Linked DNA regions of Homo sapiens: all the other regions are reported to be linked to region 3. Evidence: microRNA targets listed by miRTarBase, many of them from high-throughput screens and not tested one by one. Region 3 holds a microRNA gene; each other region holds the end of a gene's coding sequence.

Region 1 (7,201 bases), not on the chromosome of region 3:
GGAGGTCTGATTGAAGTAGACTGTAAGTAAGCTATAAGTAGGCCAGGCACAGTGGATTGTGTCTGTAATCCCAGCACCTGAGCTGAGGTGGGAGGATCACTTGAGGCCAGGAGTTTGAGACCAACTTGGGCAACATAGCAAGACCCCGTCTCTACAAAAAAAGTTGGTATTTTTGTTTGTTTTGAGATAGTCTCGCTCTGTCACCCAGGCTGAAGTACAGTGGCATGATTTTGGGTCACTGCAACCTCCACCTCCCAGGTTCAAGTGATTCTCCTGCCTCAGTCTCCTGAGTAGTTGGGAGCACAGGCACACACCACCACATCTGGCTAATTTTTGTATTCTTAGTAGAGACGGGGTTTCACCATGTTGGCCAAGGTGGTCTCAAACTCCTGACCTCAGGTGATCTACACGCCTCAGCCTCCCAAAGTGCTGGGATTACCGGTGTGAGACCTTACAGGACTGTTAGTCTCAAACTATTTTTTTAAAAATACCAAAATTTTAAAGTCCAAAATTACAGATCACTTTAAAGCAGTACTATGACTAGTTTAACATCAAACAGCTTTCCGTTGGAATATTGTTCCTTTGTTCTCTTTATCTACCATTTTAAGCATGTGATTTTAAACTTTTTTTTTTTTTAATTCTAAGCTTAGTTGACAATTTAAGAAGCTAGTATTTTTTGGAAATCGTCCCAAACTTTGAAAAGAAAATTCTGGGCTTACTGCTCTGGTTGGGAACTGGATTTTTTCCAACCCATCTTCCATAGGCTCGGTCAAGATAAAGCAGAAACATTAAAAGCAAGAGCAGGAAAACTAGTATAAAAACTTAGCACCAAGTAGGCCAGAACCAGATAGCACCACCTTTATCTTTTCACTCTTTTGACATTCCTAATTTTGTTTTTCACAGGATCTGGTGAAAAGCCATTTGATGTATGCAGTAAGAGAAGAAGTGGAAGTTTTAAAGGAACAAATAAAAGAATTAGTTGAAAGAAACTCTTTACTTGAACGAGAAAATGCACTGTTAAAATCTCTTTCAAGCAATGATCAATTATCCCAACTCCCAACCCAACAGGCCAATCCTGGTAGCACTTCTCAACAGCAAGCAGTGATAGCACAGCCTCCGCAGCCAACGCAACCTCCACAGCAGCCGAATGTCTCCTCAGCATAAAGCTTTCTTAAGCCTCATTAAGAAAAAAACTGAAAGCAATCTATCCTTGTGTGCCACTGGTGTTCTTTCCACTTTATACGAAAGCAAGTAGCCATGCTTTGGTTGTGTGTTTGGCCTTTTCAGTATTAGACAATCATTCTACAAGAGCTTTTCCTCTCTCTGAGATGTCATGCAGCGCTGTTGATGTCCAGTTCTATGTCATCAGTACACAAGGAGAATAATAGATGGGGTTTATTAAAGCGAGCAAAGTCTGCATTTTACCTGGTGCGCATGAGTGGGGTCTTTAAGAGTTTTGGTGGCTCTCCCATGTTTCCTATTACCCATGGATTTACCCTGAGCCTTCCTATCACATTATAAATAACAGTTCATCTAAAGAGCCACTTTTCTTTCTGATTCAGTAACATTTGCCTACATAAGTTTTCATTTATTTGTGTTTTATTTATTACAGGGCTGCTATTTTCATAATGTACATGAACAATGTCACAGAACTTTTTTAATTTTTTTGAATAATTATAAGTATCAGTAAAGGAAGTGAAAGACAGGATTGCATTTAATAGATAAAACGTTTAGGCAATAATTGAACAAAAGAATCCTGGCATATTTCTAACACTAATGGCAATTTACTTATGGTATTTATTTTCAGTAGTAAAGACCCAGCTTGAATGTAAATTTTGTATAGTGTAAGTATGAAGAACATAGTGCAACTGTACAGGTAGTCACCAGTTATTGTGATATGATAAATAATTGGGCTATTTTGATGAAGAAAACTTTGTTCATTTGTTTCTACTTTCTAAGAGAAATTGCCACGATTCCTCTGCTTTTCAACATTTCGTATGACTTTTTTTTCGGGTGGGAATAAAAAGCTGTGAAATTGTTCAACCTACTTTGTAACCAAAGAAGCAAAGCTGTGTAATGGAGTTTGGTTTTTTTTTGTTGTTTTTTTTTTTTTGTCTTTTTTTTTTTTTATAATGCACATTCTTTATGTATTTTTATTTAGTGTTTTCTCAGTCACAATTTTCTTTACTGTCTAGCATGATCTGCATGACCTATAATCTTTGAACCACTTTCGTACCTCATGTTTTTATCCAGCACTCTTATTGTAATATGTACTAGTCTGTGAACAATGTCAAATAAAAGAGAACGAACAGGTAGTTTGGTGGAGCTGAGCTAGTGTACAATACACTAGTTGTAAAAAAAAAAAAAAAAAAAAGTGAGCCATCTTTTGTTCATTTAAAATGGTGTTTTGAATTTCGTATGCAGAAAACGTTTTGTTACATTGCAGATTTTAATGTATTTAATAAATGCAACATGCAGATTAAGTGCAGTGTATACTGAGTATTTAAATTAAAATGTACATTTCATAAATACAGTTTCAAAAGAAAGCATCATTTTGTGTATACTAACACATTAAGTGTATGTCAGAAATTGATGTATAAATATATATTTTAACATTTTCTGAAATTAAACTGCAGTTTTGTTGAAATATTTGGCTCTATATGTGTTCAAAATTTGACTAGATTTGTATTTTCACAGTTCAAAATACTCCTTAAAGACCTGTTAATAATGACTTACTGATAGTTCTTAAATTTTCAAAGTAAAACAATTTAAAGAATGCAAAAATAGTGAGCAATATTTGTACTCAATATTCATATTATGTTAGTGATACTTAAGTAGGAAATCCTTGTCTACCAAAACTTTTACTTGAATTCAGAAAGGTGCCTGTAGAAATTAACATGCACTGCATCTGTAGCCAGCTAGCTAATCAGAGTTAATGAGAACCAGTAGTTAGTTCTCCGTGTTAAAAGACTTATTTGAAGTAAAAATTTAATCAGATTAGCCACAAACAAACAAGGCATAAAATTGGGATGTACATGAGATTGCCAAATATTTTCTATTCTAGTTGTGCTGCAAGACATTGAACAAAATGTTAATGAATAACATTATAAATCAAGGAACTAAGTACATAGGCTTGAGTAAGCAACCCTAAGGATGTGTAGTAAGATTCCAAGTAGAGCTGCTACAGGTGAGATACTTAATGGAATGTGAAACTTCACTGTTGGACTGTTAACCGAAAAGGTTTGCTGGCTGTGCCCCTCCAGTGCTAACTGTGACATGTGATATTTAATACAGGTGGAGAAAAACTAGTCTTAGAAATGGGATTTTTGTGAAAATAGATTCCATTTTGATTCTGGGGCTGGAAAAACACTTCATAAACAAAGTAATAGTCTCCAAGGAAATGAATAATAAGGTTTAAAATGGTAACAGCAGTTATTACTACTTTTATATTAAGAAAAACAGTAGAAAAGGAGAGAAAATATGGGTAGTTCACAGAAGAGATAAATGGCAGTTTCTAAAGGTTCAACCTCTAGTAACCTAAGAAATGCAAATTAATGTTTTTGGCGAATTGTAATAAGTGTCCTAAGTAGCAGGACTTAACATAGAAAGAAAGACAGGCTTTCCTGTGTACTTTTAGAAAGTAATTTGGCAGTATGTATCTAGAGCCTTAAATAATAAGCTTTCCAGTGTAACGACAGGAGAAGATACTCAACTCATGGTCCATTGTTCAAAAATGCAGAATTATTGTGGTGTCTGCCCTCTGCTTTCCCATCATCCCCTCCCCTCAAAATCCAAACTATCCCTACTGTCAACCCTTCCCCCAGCTGATTGTTTAGGATCTTAAGTAACTTCCAATTCAGCTTTGGAGATTTAGTCTCCTGCTCCAAATAGTTGTAAATATTAACTGATTGAGATCCCAATTTGGAGGCACAGTCTTACAGGAATGCCATCTATCTAATTCTGTCAGTGTAATGCCCATAGAGCAAGGTCCCACATAAGCTTTTCTGTTTTAATTTAGCCGGTAAATCATAAGTAGAAATTTTTCTGATACGGTAATTGTCTACAATTCAAACCTAACTTTCCCCAAATAAAATTTAGTTTGTTCCGATGTGATCTCACAGCTTGCCACACCAAAAACAAATAGTAGGGGTTAGGAGGCATTAAATAAACAGTTTCCTTAACTCCTGATTGTCCAAAATAGCTGAATTTTTCCAATTCTATTTATAATATCCTATGCTAATTAGAAGTATTGAGATAACGTTTTATAATCAAGCCTCCAGTGACTGGGGATCACAGCTGCCATTATTCACAAGAATTTTCACAGGTGAATGATTATATTTCTCCAAGTTGCAAACTCCAGTAATTCATGGACCTTTTTTTAAAAAAAAAAAAAGTCTTAATAGAACCAGAATATCTCTGTTCTTGAAAATTTATCTTTGCAGAACCAGAAATAGCTAATTGTCTGGAAACAATTTTTAAGATTTGAAGTCACATTTTTAAAAGAAGCTTTATGGCTCAGTGGCAAGCACTTTGTGACATTTCTTTAATAATCCTATGAAAAGGACAAAACCCAGCCCTCAAAATTGACAATTTGAGGACATAATAAGCCAACTGATAATGCAGTGAGGAATACTTGTTACTATGTACAGTCAGGGATGGTTTTGTCAGGGTAGGTTTCCTCAAAAACATGACACCTGAGTCTTGAAGGTCATAAGAGCCAGAGGGAAGGGTGTTCCAAGCACAAGAAAAGAGAACTCAATGGCTTAAAAGTATAAACAAGGCTCCTAGGGCAGCCACAGAATTGCATTGGAGACAGGCAGGCAGTGACTTCCCCACTGACCTAGTATTTTGGCATCTATTCAGAAAGCAAGAATGATTTATTGAATGGTTTTAAGCAATGGGATACTATGCTCAAATTATGCTGGATGTGCACAATTCCAGTGGCAGATGGGAGGTAGGTTAGAGTAGCTGAAACTGGAAGCTGAGAAATAATTTAGGAGGGATGACAATCCGGAAAATAAATGAAAGGGCAAAATTACATAGGCAATTTTGTGAAGGTCATGAAGGAAGTTTGTCTTGGGTCTTTCTGTACCATTTTCCTCTCCACAATGAACATCCCATTCCCAGTGTCAGGTATCAGGTGCCTATTTTCTTTTTTTCTTTTTTCTTTTTTTTTTTTTTTGAGACAGAGTCTTGCTGTGCTCAGGCTGGAGTGCAGTGGCAAGATCTCGGCTCACTGCAACCTCCGCCTCCCAGGTTCAAGCGATTCTCCTGCCTCAGCCTCCTGAGTAGCTGGGATTACAGGCGTGTGCCACCATGCCAGGCTAATTTTTGTATTTTTAGTAGAGACAGGGTTTCACCATGTTGGCCAGGTTGGTCTTGAACTCCTGACCTCAAGTCATCTCCCCCGCCCGCCTGGGCCTCCCAAAGTGTTGGGATTACAGGCGTGAGCCACCGCACCCAGCTGCCTATTTTCTTGTCCCTCCAAAAAAAGATTAAAGAGTCCCAACTCATACTTGAAAGTTTGACTCGGTCTTTTCCTTCCAACAGTTATAAATCTGTGAAATGAAAGTCTTTGTTTCCTTAAAGGGATTTCAAGAATTTAACAAAAGGGTTGGGGAATGGAACCTTTGCTGTCACTATGCCTGTCTCTCAATTCTACCCTAAAGGTAAACTAAATGGAATCCTTTTATGGTGACTAGGATTAGGATGTTGATTCCAAAGCCTTTCCCTAAAATCTATTCCTTGCTCCCTGGAAAGGATAATACAGGTTCTGGCCCCCACTGTAGGTACTGACAGCCCAAGGCAGAATAGGTTTTGCTAGGCTTTAGCCTTTTATTCTTTGACATAGGTCAGTCCTGCAGGCTTCTTTTTTCTAAGTCTCCTGCCTATCCAAAACCAGACCTTTTCTCCCACCTCCTTCTGCTTCAAGCCTCTTAATAATCCATATTTCTATTTTCTAGCAATAGTAATAGTTTATTATTTAGTGATGTATACTTGCACCCCATTTACTCCTTTTCAATATTTCAGGATACATCTTTGTCCTGTATTTCTGTACCAGTTCACAGAATTTCTACAGCAAGATCCCTTTAAATGTATGGCTTTCCTTCATAGGTTGCAAGGATTACTTTATACAAGTGCTACTGTAACTATATCTTTTGTGGAGTACAATTGGTATGACATGCTGTGTTCATAGATGAAAATGCTAAGTGAGGCACTCTGAAGCAAGTTAAAGTTCACAGACATTCTTGCTTGCCCACCACCCCCCCGAACCCCGCCATGGAATCATCAAATAAGAAAAATAAGACAGATTTTCAGATTGGTGATGGCAAAGTAAGACGCTGGTATTTTGCACTGGCGCAGTCCATTTAGTTGTTGAATTTGTTCAGCATACCTGGATGGTGAGTGAGTTAGCTTTATTTTTCATTCTCAGCAGGGAAACTGATAGACTAGGCAGTTTGGGGAATTTTCCCATTGTCTACTGTCATGGGTCCATAGTATTTAAGTTTACAGACTACAACATTGTCCACAGAAGCCATATTTATCCCCTTGGAGGGAAGGGAAAGGTGTGCTAACTTAGATCATAAAAACAACTGAATTTTAAAACAAGGCAAATGCCACAGTTCAACTTCTCCATAAAAAAGTTAAGTTCATCTCTCCATTCTTTTGCATGCCTACAATATTTCCATATAACAACTGTAAAATACTCTTGCCTGCTGCAATCCAAATGTTATCCGGATCACAGTTCTTGCTGTCATTTCACAGGCATGCAATGTATCTATAGATAGGTCATATCATACCTGAGGAAGATCAGAGACAGCAAGGGAACATTTTCCCCACACTTGAGATGGAAATAATAACAGGTCAGTGGCTAATAAAAAGAAACATGTATGACTTTGTAAAACCCTAAAAGTGATGTTTTCAAGAAATTTAGGTTTCTTTTTTTTATTTTATAAAAAAAATGTTGACATGCAATTTAATTCTATTTCAATTTAGGTGCTGCAACCTGTACTGGATGTTTGGGGATAGAAAGATGAATGGGACATGATTTGTGTGCTCCAATGAGCTCAGTCCAGTGTAAGTGTAAAAGTTAAAGTGCCATATTGTTTATTCAGAGTATATGTTATAGTTTGTGAACCTTATATCATTTGTTAAATGAAAGGTTTTTATAAATCAACAGTAATATTGCCATCCCATGTAA
Region 2 (7,201 bases), not on the chromosome of region 3:
GATTGGTCTGCCCAATACCCAAGACTACAAATGGGTAGATCGAAATTCTGGATTGACCTGGTCAGGTAATGACACCTGTCTCTATAGCTGCCAAAACCAAACCAAAGGCCTTCTGTACCAGCTATTTCGCAACCTATTTTGCTCTTATGGCCTGACAGAGGCACATGGGAAATGGAGATGTGCAGATGCCAGCATAACTAATGACAAAGGTCATGATGGACACCGGACCCCCACCTGGTGGCTCACAGGTTCCAATCTGACCTTGTCTGTGAACAACTCTGGCCTCTTTTTTTTGTGCGGCAATGGGGTGTACAAAGGGTTTCCACCTAAATGGTCTGGGCGATGTGGACTTGGGTATCTTGTACCTTCCCTCACCAGATACCTCACCTTAAATGCTAGCCAAATTACAAACCTGAGATCCTTCATTCATAAAGTAACACCGCATAGATGCACCCAAGGAGACACAGACAATCCACCTCTGTATTGCAACCCCAAGGACAATTCAACAATAAGGGCCCTTTTTCCAAGTTTGGGAACTTATGATTTAGAAAAGGCAATTCTAAACATTTCCAAAGCAATGGAACAGGAATTCAGTGCCACTAAGCAGACCTTGGAAGCACACCAATCAAAAGTTAGCAGTTTAGCCTCTGCATCCCGAAAGGATCATGTCTTGGATATACCGACCACCCAACGACAAACGGCTTGTGGAACTGTTGGCAAACAGTGTTGCCTCTATATAAATTATTCGGAAGAAATAAAGTCTAATATACAGCGTCTCCACGAAGCATCCGAGAACCTGAAGAATGTACCGTTACTTGATTGGCAAGGCATATTTGCAAAAGTGGGAGACTGGTTCAGATCATGGGGCTATGTGCTTTTAATTGTTCTTTTCTGCTTATTCATCTTTGTTTTAATCTATGTTCGTGTCTTTCGCAAATCTCGCAGATCCCTTAACTCCCAACCTCTGAACCTAGCCTTATCTCCACAGCAATCAGCACAGCTCCTTGTCAGTGAAACTTCATGTCAAGTTTCAAATAGGGCAATGAAGGGACTAACAACCCATCAATATGACACAAGTCTACTTTGAGAATATCTGAACAAACAGCAGCTGCAGACAAAAAGCCTTAGCTAAACTTTGATGAGTAAAGCAGGTCTTACCGAGAATTCAGCTGCCAAAACCCTCCTCTGAGTGTTCCTCTTATAAGGGCACTTAGCACTAGGACCTCCCAAGGTATTGTAAATAAGCCTTATCAGAACTTTTTGTAGTTTCATTCTGAAGCCTTAAGACACACACCATAAAGCTGATCTGTAAACCCTTACCCCTTGCTGTTCAGAGAGCTACTCTTTGTAGTGTTCTTGCATGCATATATAATAAATGTTTTTTCTATTGATCTGTTAATTTGCAAGCCCCCAAACACTGGAACTAAGTTGGGGGCAGGATAGTTTCTCCCAACAGCACTTTGTAGGCTTCTGGATAGACCAAAGAGTGTGTTTGAATAGATAAGGGAATTTTGTTCCCTTGATTTTGGTTGAAGGTAGAAGAATCCAATGTACACATACACAAAACTATGTCCTTAAATTTGTCTCAAAGAATAAATATTGGGTAGTCATCAGAATTGACTGAAAACTTACTTTAGGGAGAAAGCCACAAATAATTTAGGCTGGTATGATCTGAGCTTTCCTGATTTCCCATGGGCATTTTAGTGGTCTAATGGAATATTAGTCTGATATGCATTTTAGCCATCTTATGAAATGGGCCGCAGGTGGAAGTAGGATGCAGGGAGTGTTGAGGTGGCATCTATTATATCAAATGCTTCACTCTGCCCAGTCCTCTGGTGAGTTCCTTACATGCATCTTTCTAGTTAATCCTCTCGGTGTTCATATTTTACAGATTAATCAACTCAAAGGGTAGATAGCTTGCTAAAGATTATACTATTACTGAAAAATAGCAAGATGCAGAACAGCATACCTAGTATGTTACTCTTTTTTTTTTTTTTTTGAGGCAGAGTCTGGCCCTTTCACCCAGGCTGGAGTGCAGTGGCTCAATCTCGGCTCACTGCAACCTCTGCCCCCTTGGGTTCATGCCATTCTCCTGCCTCCCTCCTGAGTAGCTGGGACTACAGGCGCCTGCCACCACGCCTGACTAATTTTTTGTGTTTTTAGTAGAGACGGGGTTTCACCGTGTTAGCCAGGATGGTCTCAGTCTCCTGACCTCATGACCCGCCCACCTCAACCTCCCAAAGTCCTAGGATTATAGGTGTGAGCCACTGCACCCAGCCTCGTATGTTACTTTTTATTTTAAAAAAGGGGAAATGATATGTATATGTGTATGTATTTGCAAATAAAACAGGAAAAGCCATTCACAATTGAAAGTGATTCACATGTAAGAGGAATGGACTGTGAGATTCTCACCTCCTTTTTAAGGTTGCACATAAACAAATTTATGAACATAGCAGATTGATAATTTATTAACAGAATAATCATTTCAAGTTACATTAAGAAAACATGGATGGCTGGGCACGGTGGCTCACGCCTGTAATCCCAGCACTTTGGGAGGCCAAGGTGGGCAGATCACGAGGTCAAGAGATCAAGACCATCCTGGCCAACATGGTGAAACCCCATCTCTACCAAAAGTACAAAAATTAGCTGGGCATGGTGGCAGGCACCTGTAGTCCCAGCCACTCAGGAGGCTGAGGCAGGAGGATCGCTTGAACCCAGGAAGCGGAGGTTGCGGTGAGCTGAGATCGCACCACTGTATTCCAGCCTGGCAACAGAGTGAGATTCTGTGGCAAAAAAAAAAAAAAAAAAAAAAAAAAGCACAGACTGGGTGTGGTGGCTCATGCCTGTAATTCCAGCACTTTGCGAGGCTGAGGCAGGTGGATCGCTTGAGCCCAGAAGTTGGAAATCAGCCTGGGCAACCTGGTGAAACCCTGTCTCTACAAAAAATTAGCCAGGTGTGGTGGCATGTGCCTATAGTCCGAGCTACCCAGGAGGCTGAGGTGGGAGCATCACTTGAGGCTGGGAGGTCGAGGCTGCTGTGAGCCAAGATTGTGCCACTGCACTCCAGCCTGGGTGATGGGGTGAGCTTCTGTCTCAAAAAGATAAAGAAAAGAAAACTCATACTCTGGAACAATAGAACCCTTATAGATGGGTTTGTTGTTCATAGTAATGTTGATATCAAAAGAAGGTAGGCTGGGTGCAGTGGCTTATGCCTGTAATCCCAGCACTATGGGAAGCCAAGGCAGGCAGATGACCTGAGGTCAGGAGTTGGAGACCAGCCTGACCAACGAGGAGAAACCCCATCTCTACTAAAAAAAAAAAAAAAAAAAAAATACAAAATTAGCCAGGCCTGGTGGTGCATGTCTGTAATCCCAGCTACTCGGGAGGCTGAGGCAAGAGAATCACTTGAACCCACTAGGCGGAGATTGTGGTGAGCCAAGATCATGCCATTGCACTCCAGCCTAGGCAACAAGAGCGAAACTCTGTTTCAAAAAAAAACCCCAAAAAGCACAAAACACACACACACACACACACAAAAGAAGGTAATAAAAACTTTCAGCAATATAGGACACAAGAGAAAGCCTCCTTGAGCTGAAAGATATAGGACTTCCTGTGTTTGTTATGCAATATGCATTGAAACTAGAGAAGCCATTAAAAGAAATGCAACTTTCAGTATTGGGTATTTGTGGTACTTGGTTTTCTTTCTTTCTTTCTTTCTTTCTTTCTTTCTTTCTTTCTTTCTTTCTTTCTTTCTTTCTTTCCTTTCCTTTCCTTTCTTTCTCTCTCTCTCTCTTTCTTTCTTTCCTTACTTTCTTTCTTTCTCTCTCTCTTTCTCTCTTTCTCTCATTCCTTCTTTCTTTCTTTCCTTTTTTTTTGACGGAGTTTCACTCATGTTGCCCAGGCTGGAGTGCAGTGGCACAATCTCAGCTCATCGCAACCTCTGCCTGCTGGGTTCAAGTGATCCTCCTGCCTCAGCCTCCTGAGTAGCAGGGATTACAGGCACGCACCACCATGCCCACCTAATTTTTTGTATTTTTAGTACAGACAGGGTTTCTCCATGCTGGTCAGGCTGGTCTCGAACTCCCAACCTCAGGTGATCCGCCCGCCTTGGCCTCCCAAAGTGCTGGGATTACAGGTGTGAGCCACCGCACCTGGCCTGGTCCTCATTTCACAATGTCAAGTACGAATACAAAGTGAAGAGGAAATATGAAATAAAGGGGCAGTCATTGGAATGTTAGAAAATGTCTTATTAAAAGGATAAAGTTTCATCAAATAGCATGACTGATTATGAGGTGTGTTAAGCTGCACAATATTTGATTAAAGTAAGGTTTGTAGGGCATGACAAGTTATAGAAAATAGTTTCAACATTACTGGTGATGGACACAAAGGTATTTCTGATTTTCAAAACTCATAGGGGAAAAAAATCCTCTTTCCATTGTTATGCATCAGAAGGAACACAAAATAGGTTGGTTGGCAAAAACATTTATTAGCCAGCTCAAAGGTTCACCAGATGTTTCACCTTCCTATTTCCTGATACATTTATTAATTAGAAGCTTACTTAAGGAAAATTGTTATCCAATATTTTTTATCAGTGTGGACTCATGGATATATACATTGTTCTTTGGGTTGTAATCCAGTACTATCATACTGTTGCTCAAAGTGTTGCAGCTTTGGCCTTTGAGAGCTCTTGGAAAATTTGTTCCTGTTTCCTTTTGACATGCCTCTCCCTATGTGTTTTTTGTTTGTTTGGCCTTATTTTTTTTTTTTCAGCACTTCCTTACTCTCCAGCGCTCCAATATGCTGCAAGCTCATCTTTTATTTTTCCTGCCCAGCCCTAGAATCAGTGATTTTTTTTTCCCAAGAAACCATTGTTCCCTGTACTGAAAAATGGTTTTAGAAACCAAGATCTGGGCACAAGATGTGCTCATTGCTACTGCTACTAGGTTATCACTGTGTAGGCCCCCTCAGTGGACACAGCTAGGAAATGTTTGTATGTATACACAGATACCTATACATATATACCTACAGTTTATTGAAATAAACGAGTTTATACTGATATCTCCAACTCTCAGCACCACAGGATTCATTCTAGCCTCACCTTACCCCTTGCTTATTTGTAACTTTTCTGTTGCTGAGAAACCTGTCTCCTATTAGCTAAGATTTATTTGCTTATTTGTTAAACTCTACTATATGTGTAAACTAGTTACATAACATAGTTACATAATTGCTAACCTGTCCCTTTATGAGAAACAAAGTAACCAATTAGAATACAGCGTTTGCTTTTTTGTCTTTGGCTTTGCAGTATTCAGTCAAGACATCGTTTTCAAAAGTTAAATCGTCTCCTCAATTTATATATAGGTATATACACATATGTGTATATATATTCACTTCTTTAAAAGTTAACCCATCATTATTGGCATCTAGAGAATCTACATACAAAGTACAAGCAACAAGAAAATGCTAAATTCACTTAAATCATGAAAAGTAATTGGGCTAGGCTCCTCATACAATTCTAATGATAGTTACACAGATGGACTACTGAAGAACAAATACTTTTTATTCTTTTGATTGTTATCTATGACTTTATACAAGATATATGTTTTTTAATTTCTCCACAGAAAGCTTCAGAAGATGAGTATTTAAATGTAGCCATCTTAACCAGCAATCAGTACTACCACAAGGAATATTTCAGGGGTGGCAACAACCCTGTGATAATCCTGCAGCATGGGTCGATTTGCTTTCAAAACCTAGAGGTGTACAAAGTCAAAGGTGAAGAAAATGTGCATTTGCTGTTAAGAAAATATTATGATATACAGTAATTACAACTGTGAGGGAATATATGCAATAAAAATAATTGTTTGGGAGGAAATGTGGATGATTTTTTTTTCTGTTTTCCAAACGAAAGCCTTAGGACATAACACTTTTTGAGTGAGATCTTTGTGGTGACATAATAATTCTATATCTGAGTTGTGATGGTTCCATGAATTTACACATGACAAAATGACACAGAATGATGTAATATTGGCACACACAGCTCAATGTCAATTTTCTAGTTTTGTTTTTGTGCTATAGTGACTTCCACTTGGGAGAATTTGGGTGAAGGCTACGTGGAATCTCTCTGCACTGTTTTTTTTTAAATATATAATTCAGAGTAAAAAGCTTTAAAAAGTAATAGTATTTTACATCCTCAAATTAAACAGATGTGTAAATATATACATATATAGTTTATGTATGTTAAACCTAGTTGCCTTTTTTAATGAGTTTTTTTTCTGTATTAAACTATCCTTCAGAAAGGTTGAAGCAAATGTACCATGTATAATAGGATATTTAAAATTTCATTTTCATTGGCAGAGTAATTTCACAGGAAATGTATCTTAAGGAAATACTCTGCCCTTTCATACCTTCTGTCTTCCTAATAATTTCTACAAAGATATTCAAAAAACCCTTTTGCCAAATAAATGGTCTATAAACTTCTTAACACATCGTGCAGTGCCAGTCTTAATGGTTGGCCACTCCCTCTTTCCAAACACCTTCCCTGAATCACAGTGTGATGCTTAATTTTTGTGTCAACTTTACTGGGCTACAGAGCACCTAGATATTTGATTAAACAGTATTCTGAGTGTTTCTGTAGAAGTGTTTTGGGACGAAATTAACACTTAAATGGGAATACCGAGTAAAGCAGATTTATCTGCCTAATGTGAGTGGGCCTTATCCAATCAGCTGAAGGCCTAAAGAGAATAAGAGGGCTGACCCTCCCCTGAGGAAGAGAATTCTTCCTGCTTGACTGCCTGTGAATTTGACCTTTCCCCCTTGCCTTCAGCTCTTTCTGGGTCTCAAGCCTACCAGCCCTTAAACAGGAACTACACAATTGGCTCTCTTGAGTCTCCAGCAATGATTCCCAAATCTGTATCTCAAACCTGGATTTCACTACTCAACTCCAAACTCATGTCTCTTTGTACTTATCTGTCATCTCCCCTTGGATGCTGAAGAGGCATCTCAACCTTAGCATGAACAAACTTCACTTTCAGCTCCCTCCCCCAGACTTATTCTTCAGTTTTCCTTATCTCAATGAATAATGACACTATTCCACCCAGTTGCTCATGCCAAAACTCAGGTGGTCTTTCACTATTCCTTTCTTTCCCTTTTTTCCAACACATCCAATCAACCAGCAAGCTCCTTCAACTCAATTTCCACAACACAG
Region 3 (7,201 bases):
AATGATTGTCAAATGAAAAAGCAATTTCCAAAGATTTCTCTCTCCAAATATAACACTGCCAAAACAAAAAAATCTGTGTGTTTATAAAGCATGTCTCAGGATGAGGCCCAAGCCCTACTATACAATAGAGAAGAGCCTTAGAAATAGGGGCTACAATTAATAGCACACCTTTTGTTCCAAAATCTGTATGGATGATTCCCCGGGCAAAATATTTGACATTTTTCAGTCCATGGTATAAGGAAAGTGGCTCTTTCTGGAATCTTCTCCTGAATAAAAAATGTAGCCACTTCTGAGATGTAAAACAGAAGATATTTATATTTAATGATCAGCAACTACGCCCAACAAGTTCTCAAAAAAAAAAGAAAAGAAAAGAAAAGAAAAACTCATGAATACAAATATATCTATGAGACATAAGCTGGATGCCATATACAAGAATGGTACACACAACCCTGCCTATGACCCAGACTGTAACACTTACCACTGTTTAATTCTTTAATGTTTACTGACTAAAACAAGATGAGCCCAATCTGATAATTTATACTGATACAAATTAGTATACCAATGGCCACACAGTATTGCTGGGCTCAACACAGACTGGATTCAGCAGCGATCTAGGAAGAACCTTTTTTTGAAAGACTTTTAGAGGCCGGGCGCAGTGGCTCATGCCTGTAATCCCAGCACTTTCGGAGGCTGAGGTGGGTGGATCACTTGAGGTCAGGAGTTCCAGACCAGCCTGGCCAACATGGTGAAACCCCATCTCTACTAAAAATTCAAAAATTAGCTGGGCATAGTGGCACACGCCTGTAATCCCAGCTACTCAGGAGGCTGAGGCAGGAGAATCACTTGAACCCGGGAGGTGGAGGTTGCAGTGAGCTGAGATCAGGCCACCGCACTCCAGCATGGATGAGAGAGAGAGACTCCATCTCACTTTCGGAGTATCAGATAGCAGTAGCTGCCCCTTGGGAGTAATCACAAGCTAATCACACTTGCTTTTTAAACTCTGTTGCATTTTGTTTCTTGTGCTTTCCCTCACCCCTCCCAATCCCTAAAAAGGAGTTGATTTTTCCCAAATGTGATCAGATTTGTAGTTAAGATCACAAGTCAAGTCTTTCAAACACTGAGTCAGAGGAAGAAATAAACATTTCTGTCAGGGGACTGTGGGAAGGCTGTAAAGGCCTACTAAACCCTGTGGAATAAGTATGAAATTTTGGCATAGTCTAAGGAGGTGGGGGTCTTTCCAGGCAAAGAGACAACAGAATGCAGTGCATAAGTACTGGTTGTATATGGATTTGTTTGGACTACCAACCAGACTGTGACTCCTCAGAGGGCTAACACTATGTCTCAGTCATAACTGTACCCCCAGCACAGTGCCTAGCATACAGTAGGGAGTCCCACTGTTTAATGAATTGTAAGTCTGTTATGGGTAAAAATCCAATCGTAAGACTTTCTATCTCCTAGCAGGTACCTGAGAAACATTTTTTCCTGATGGATCAATTGTTTATTTCATTCCTCACATATTCTTGAAAGGAACTAAAAGATAAGGCTTAGGAGAACAAATACTAAATTATCTCCTAGCACCTGAAGAAATGGTAAACAAGAGAACCGGTGTGAGGTTCTTTTGAACCTAACTAAACTATTATTTAATACCAGTTGGTGTTGTCTGTGACTAATGAAGCTGTACTCCAAAACCTGCCAGCCAAGGAGGGGCTGCTGAGAGACTCCCCATTCCCTTGTCCTGTTCTCAACCTGCACTAGAAGCCTACCATTCCCCTATCCTCCACAGCCCCAAACACAGGCCGGGGGCCTAATTACAGCTGCCCATCACTGCTACAGCTGCTTTTTACCCATGAGGGAGACTTCAGTGCAGCATTATGATTTGCTGCCAAATACATAAAAGCATTACCTTTAATAAAATCCCCAAGACATTTATGTGGACCAGGTGAGGGCTAATTCTATCTTTTTTGACTCTGATAGCTCTTTAAGAATTTTAATATATGGAGGGTATTAGATCATGTAGTGTTGATTACATGTCTTTCATTTTATAGACAGGAAAACTGAGATCTACAGTAGTTAAACCCCTTGGCCAAGGTTACACAGTTCGCGGCCGATCTCCTGGGTCCTTAGTAAGGCTCCTTCTACATACCACCCTAGGGAAGAAAGCGCTGCTAGCTGGGACCTGGAACTGTGTAGCAAATGCAAATGGCTAATCCCCAAAGGAGGCAGCAAGCTCAATTCTCCGGTCAGGCTTTCCCCAAAGGCACTGCTTCATCCTCTTGGCTGATGACAACTACGGTGAATTTAATCATTTGCTACTGGCAGTCAATATAAGTGGTTTAGGCAGCATCTGATTTAATAAATCAAATAAAGAACGCAGTAAAACTTGATGTGATCATCAGATCTACTGAATAGGACCCAGAGAAACAACTATGGGCTCCAGCACAAATACCAGAAAAAAGAAAATTCTGTCTTCTCTGGCACCTATCTCTGGCTTCCTGAAATAGTAAAACAGGATTTTTAAATACTTATCTGTCCATATTTGTTTTACAGAGCATTCTTCCTAATTTATCTTGTATTCAATCAGTACCCTTGGAGGGGGTATTAGTTCACCTTCCTCACTGCAAATGCCAGCCATTCATATTTAATAAGCAATAAGAATCAGGATAATATGCTTAGTAAATGAGAACAGTTTAGAAATTGAAAGCAGATGTAAAAGGAACTGACTTAATGGCAAGTTTAAACCCTTTAGAACATGATGAATAAATTCTGACTTTTCATGATAAAACATCCCAGTTCAAAACAGGTTATGTATCACTATGGGACATCAGAAACTGAAGAATTAAATTTCTTTGGGCTAAAAATGACGTGGAAGGGAAAGGTCCCAGGACAAACAGTAAGGTAATGCTTCTGTTTTGATGCTGAGATTTCTTCTGTGCTGCAGATTTTAAAACCTTTCAAATGGCTGTATTTTCTCCCAACTCTTCCTCTGTGCTGCCACATTTCAGACCCAGCAAGGAGATACTTGCAGAGACTGGTCTGGTAACTGAAGATTACCAAGAAACAGAAGGAAAGACTGCTCCAAATTAATTTTTTTTTCTTTTTTTCCCCCTTAGTTCAAGGAAAGAAGCAAACTTATTATTTAAGAGCAATGCAAAATGAAAGCCAAGGCCAAGGACTTACTTTCCCGGATCTGGCATCTGAGTGCACAGCAACCGCAGAGACTGAAAACTCCTCCGAATAGAATGAATGTTTGCCATCCCCATAAACACAACTTCACAGTTTGGGTAATACTCTGGAGAGAGTAACAATAAAGAGAACACAAATACGTTGAACTTAAAGCCCACATGGCCAAATTTAAAAGCAAACTGGCTATAAAACAAACCCACTGCAGCTTCTGATTAACGAAACTGAAATGTTTTGAAATGCTTAACTATTAGCCCAATCCTTTATAATAAGAGGAACACACTGAATTTTAGCTATCTTTTCAAAAAGCGTGAAAAGGGAAGGTTAGATTTGTAAAGAAGATACTGACATAAAATAAAAGCTATTATTTTTTAAAAGAAAGGCCTACTTCGATCTCACTCTGGCTTTACTTCTTGGGCCTTATCTAACTTGTGGCTTTGAAATCTCTTTGAAAAGAACTCCACAGAACAATGCGTTCACACATTCAAATTTCACCTTGGTACAGCTGCTTTCAATTTCCAGCTTAGACCACATCTGAACAAAGAGCCTGGTGCCTCTGCCTGTGCCATAGGCACTGAGGGGGGTCCCTCCTTGGGGAAAGCTAGCATTCCAACAGTAATGGTGTTACAGCTCAGGACAGAGATACCTTACTAGGGTTCTGTATTTACTGCTTCAATTTTCACCCCAGGTTTTCTAAGGAGAGGCCCTTGAGGAGTTTGCTACAAGGCCAGTGGTGAGCATACCCTCTGTCAAAGGCAACAAAAAGCTTTTAGACGGCTGAGAAATTGAGCCCACTAAAGCAGCAGCTTCCAAACATGAACAGGTCTTATTATGGGGAAGATCTGCTTTCCTTATCACCTACAAGTTGGCACAAGGAAGGAAGATTATGTGACTTCACTGCACCTCCTCCTCCATTTCTCCTCAGAAAAGAACATACAGTGTTAAGAATCCAAAGAGAAGCTCTGGCACTCTCACGACAGGATGGATGAGGAATATGGCTTGCCACTTATTTCAAATTGGGAACTAAGTCTCAGTTGGGCAAGGGCTACACTCACAAGGAGAAAGTATGGGGAACAAAGCACCATACACCTCACCTGGGCATTCGCAGCCTCCTCCTTTGGCTCGGTTTGCCACAGCAGCTGCATAGGAGCGTGCATCCAAGATCAAAAGCTTCTGCGGTTGGATGGCTAAACTCTCTGCTCCTGAAGCATTTGACAGAGAAGAATCTAGGGACACAGAGGGAGAGGGCATACTAAATGAGCCTGTCTCTCCCAGAACTGTGCAGAATTAGACCCACAAGCACATCTTATGGCACAAAAAAGGCTCAATAAAATGAAATCCCCTAACCAAAACCCTTGATACATAGGATTTTTCTCTTTTTTTCTATGTGGCCTTCTTATGAAAGATGAGAAGGATTTATTCTCCAAAACTGACTCCCAGAGTACACATGGGGTTCACACAGCCCAGTCTCTTATACTTCATTTCTGTATCTGTTGTCCTTTCATGAAGCCTGGCATTTCCTGCCATGGTCTGCAGATACTGCAAGTCCTCTATTACATAAACACTCCATTTTTGTCACAATGGCAAGAAAGACAACAAACACACTAATATCTTGATTCAGGTTTGAAACAAAGGGTCTTCTGATTCTCTGCCAAGACCCATGACTCCTCAATCAATCCCATCAAGTGAAGCTCTGCACATTCACTTCTATAAAAGTAAATCTATGTCTTGTAAGGAAGAGGCCATTTCAAGAAAAGGTTCTTAGATGCTATAAAAATCATTGCCATGGGTCCAGGGAGCACCTTACCGAACTCCACGTCAGAAAGGTCTCCCCCATTGGGAAAGTCTCGAGAAGTGTTCCTAGTTGACAGCTTGCTGCCACTCGATCGGGAGTCAGAGGCACAAGCTTTGGCTACTGACTGTACCAGATGCTCATCATCTGCATTTCGCCAGCCCCACCAGCTAACCTCTGGCTGTCCACAGCGGGCAATGACAGCTCCATTGCTCTGGTGCCTGTGTGAGGAACAAGAGACAACAACTGTACCCATTCAGATGCTCTCTGTACTCACACAAAATAGATTTTAAGTGCCTTAATGAACAGTCTAATTCTAGGTAAGTGTTGGGTCAGCTTCAAGTCCTCTCAGTATTAAAGAGGGTAGAAATCTTACACAACCAACAAGAACAAACAACAAAACCTGTGTGTCTTTCTCAATTACCATAACATCACGGAGATCCCTGTAAAGTTACCCAAAAAAATGACTAACAGGGGTCAGGCATGGAGGCTCACTCTGCAATCCCAGCACTTTGAGAGGCTGAGGCAGGAGGATCACTTGAGCCCAGGAGTTCAAGACCAGCCTGAGCAACATAGCAAGACCCCATCTTTACAAAAAAGTTTTTACAAATTAGCCAGGCATGGTAGCACATGCCTGTAGTCGCAGCTACTCAGGAGGCTGAGGTGGAAGGATCCCTTGAACCCAGAAGGCTGAAGTTGCAGAAAGCTATGATTGTGCCACTGCACTCCAGCACTCCAGCTTGGGTGACAGAGCAAGACCCCATTTCCAAAAAACAAAAAAGAATTAATGTGTACTCTTAGTGAAAATAAATCAATATTCGTAACTTAAATCTATAGGTACTACACTAATTCTGCTACCCAATAGTGAAATCTGCTACCTTCTTAATGCTGAACCAAGAGCCCGCCTCTGGGAATAAAACATTTACCTGGCCCACAGTGAACTGCTTTACAAAATCTCCTGAGATTTCATGAGTCACAGACTGCTCTTATAATAGGCAGATAGCTCAATGAGCCAGCTACCCTTCCTAGGGCTCTTAAGAAAGAGAAGAAGAGCATCAACCTCAGAAAACCATACTCTGACATATCCTTTTCCAATAAGACAGACCAGAAATCACAGTCTACTTTAAGGTGCTATTAAAACCCAGACTTTTCCTAGTTAGGCAATTTTAACTGATAAAAAGTTAGAAAAATTCTATTACTTGGCAGTAAAGAGGAATAAAGTTCTGATACAGGCTAGGACACTGATGAACCTCAAATATGTTATGACAAGTGAAAGAAGTCAGTCACAAAAGGCAACTTATTGTACGACAATTAACATGAAGTATCCAGAATAGGCGAATCTATAAAGATGGAAGTAGATTTCTGCATGTAGTGACTATTATAAACTCGTAGTTACTTAAGGGAGCTTGCCTAATTCTAAGTTGGGGTTACTTAAAACGAGTATGTTTCTATATAAAACTGAAGCACTCTATGTTTTACTAGCAGGGGCTTCATCCATTGGACATCTTAATTATTCAGGGCTAGGGTGGCTGGGTGCCCTGTGAATGGGTTTTTTGGGACGATGAAAATGTACTGTAATTTGTTTTTACTCCTAAAACTCACAAATAAGTTAAATTTGGCACTAATCAAATTCCACTGAAATCACCAGTTTGCTTGTAGTTTTTAAAGCCTCCCTCCCTGGGAGACAAGTAGCTGTAAGTACTTGTGTATTGCCAACATGCTCAACTGGCTCACGTGCTGAATGGGGCCAAAATAGAAATAAAACCTCAATGATTCTTTATAAAATGTCTCCTAGCAAATAACAGGCAACCACTGAGCTGAATGACTCCAAACCCTGCACAAGAGGCTGGTTGGGCCTTTCCTGAACATCCTCCTCTTCTTCAATGCTTCCCAGCAGTGCCCAAGAGGAGCAGTAGATGGCGCTCTTCAGCCTGGATCTTGGGTTTTAGGGGACACTGCATTATAGTAGCTATTAGATTTCAACTGGACTATTGCAATAAACAATTATGTTTTCTGCAGTCTTCTAAAATGCTTCAGACTACATGAAAGATAATTCAAACACTACAGTTAAAAATCACTAAAGGAATGCATTTCTATCACTAACAGAACCAGGCAAAGTATAAAAATTATGATGTCCAACAGATAAAGCCCTCCCTACTAAAACACAGAATGCTTCAATTTTATATAGGAACAGAATTGTCTTAAGTAACCTCAACTTAGATTTAGGCA

What was found. The annotated mature microRNA hsa-miR-6818-5p reads UUGUGUGAGUACAGAGAGCAUC and lies in region 3 at 5,232-5,253, opposite strand. An mRNA with a match to its seed (bases 2 to 7 or 8) in the 3' UTR can be bound and repressed. Matches are read on the target gene's strand: a 7mer-m8 pairs with bases 2 to 8, a 7mer-A1 pairs with bases 2 to 7 and ends in A, and an 8mer does both.
Region 1: miRTarBase lists TSC22D2 as a target of hsa-miR-6818-5p. The part of its 3' UTR that is shown has no 7-base or 8-base seed match.
Region 2: miRTarBase lists ERVMER34-1 as a target of hsa-miR-6818-5p. The part of its 3' UTR that is shown has no 7-base or 8-base seed match.

The regions. Positions count from the first base shown.
Region 1 is chr3:150,457,473-150,464,673 of GRCh38, forward strand. It overlaps TSC22D2 (TSC22 domain family member 2), which reads left to right. Exons shown (of 3, transcript NM_001303264.2): 3 at 904-7,201. The coding sequence ends at 1,164. Among named protein-coding and RNA genes, the nearest start is that of TSC22D2, 53 kb to the left of the region's middle.
Region 2 is chr4:52,737,715-52,744,915 of GRCh38, reverse strand. ERVMER34-1 (endogenous retrovirus group MER34 member 1, envelope) reads left to right here. Exons shown (of 3, transcript NM_001242690.2): 3 at 1-2,363. The coding sequence ends at 1,087. Among named protein-coding and RNA genes, the nearest start is that of ERVMER34-1, 10 kb to the left of the region's middle.
Region 3 is chr22:30,005,106-30,012,306 of GRCh38, reverse strand. It overlaps MIR6818 (microRNA 6818), which reads right to left and starts at 5,258; the gene lies at 5,194-5,258. MTMR3 (myotubularin related protein 3) reads right to left here. Exons shown (of 20, transcript NM_021090.4): 10 at 4,988-5,193; 11 at 4,275-4,406; 12 at 3,178-3,289. HORMAD2-AS1 (HORMAD2 and MTMR3 antisense RNA 1) reads left to right here. Exons shown (of 5, transcript NR_110541.2): 5 at 3,111-3,561.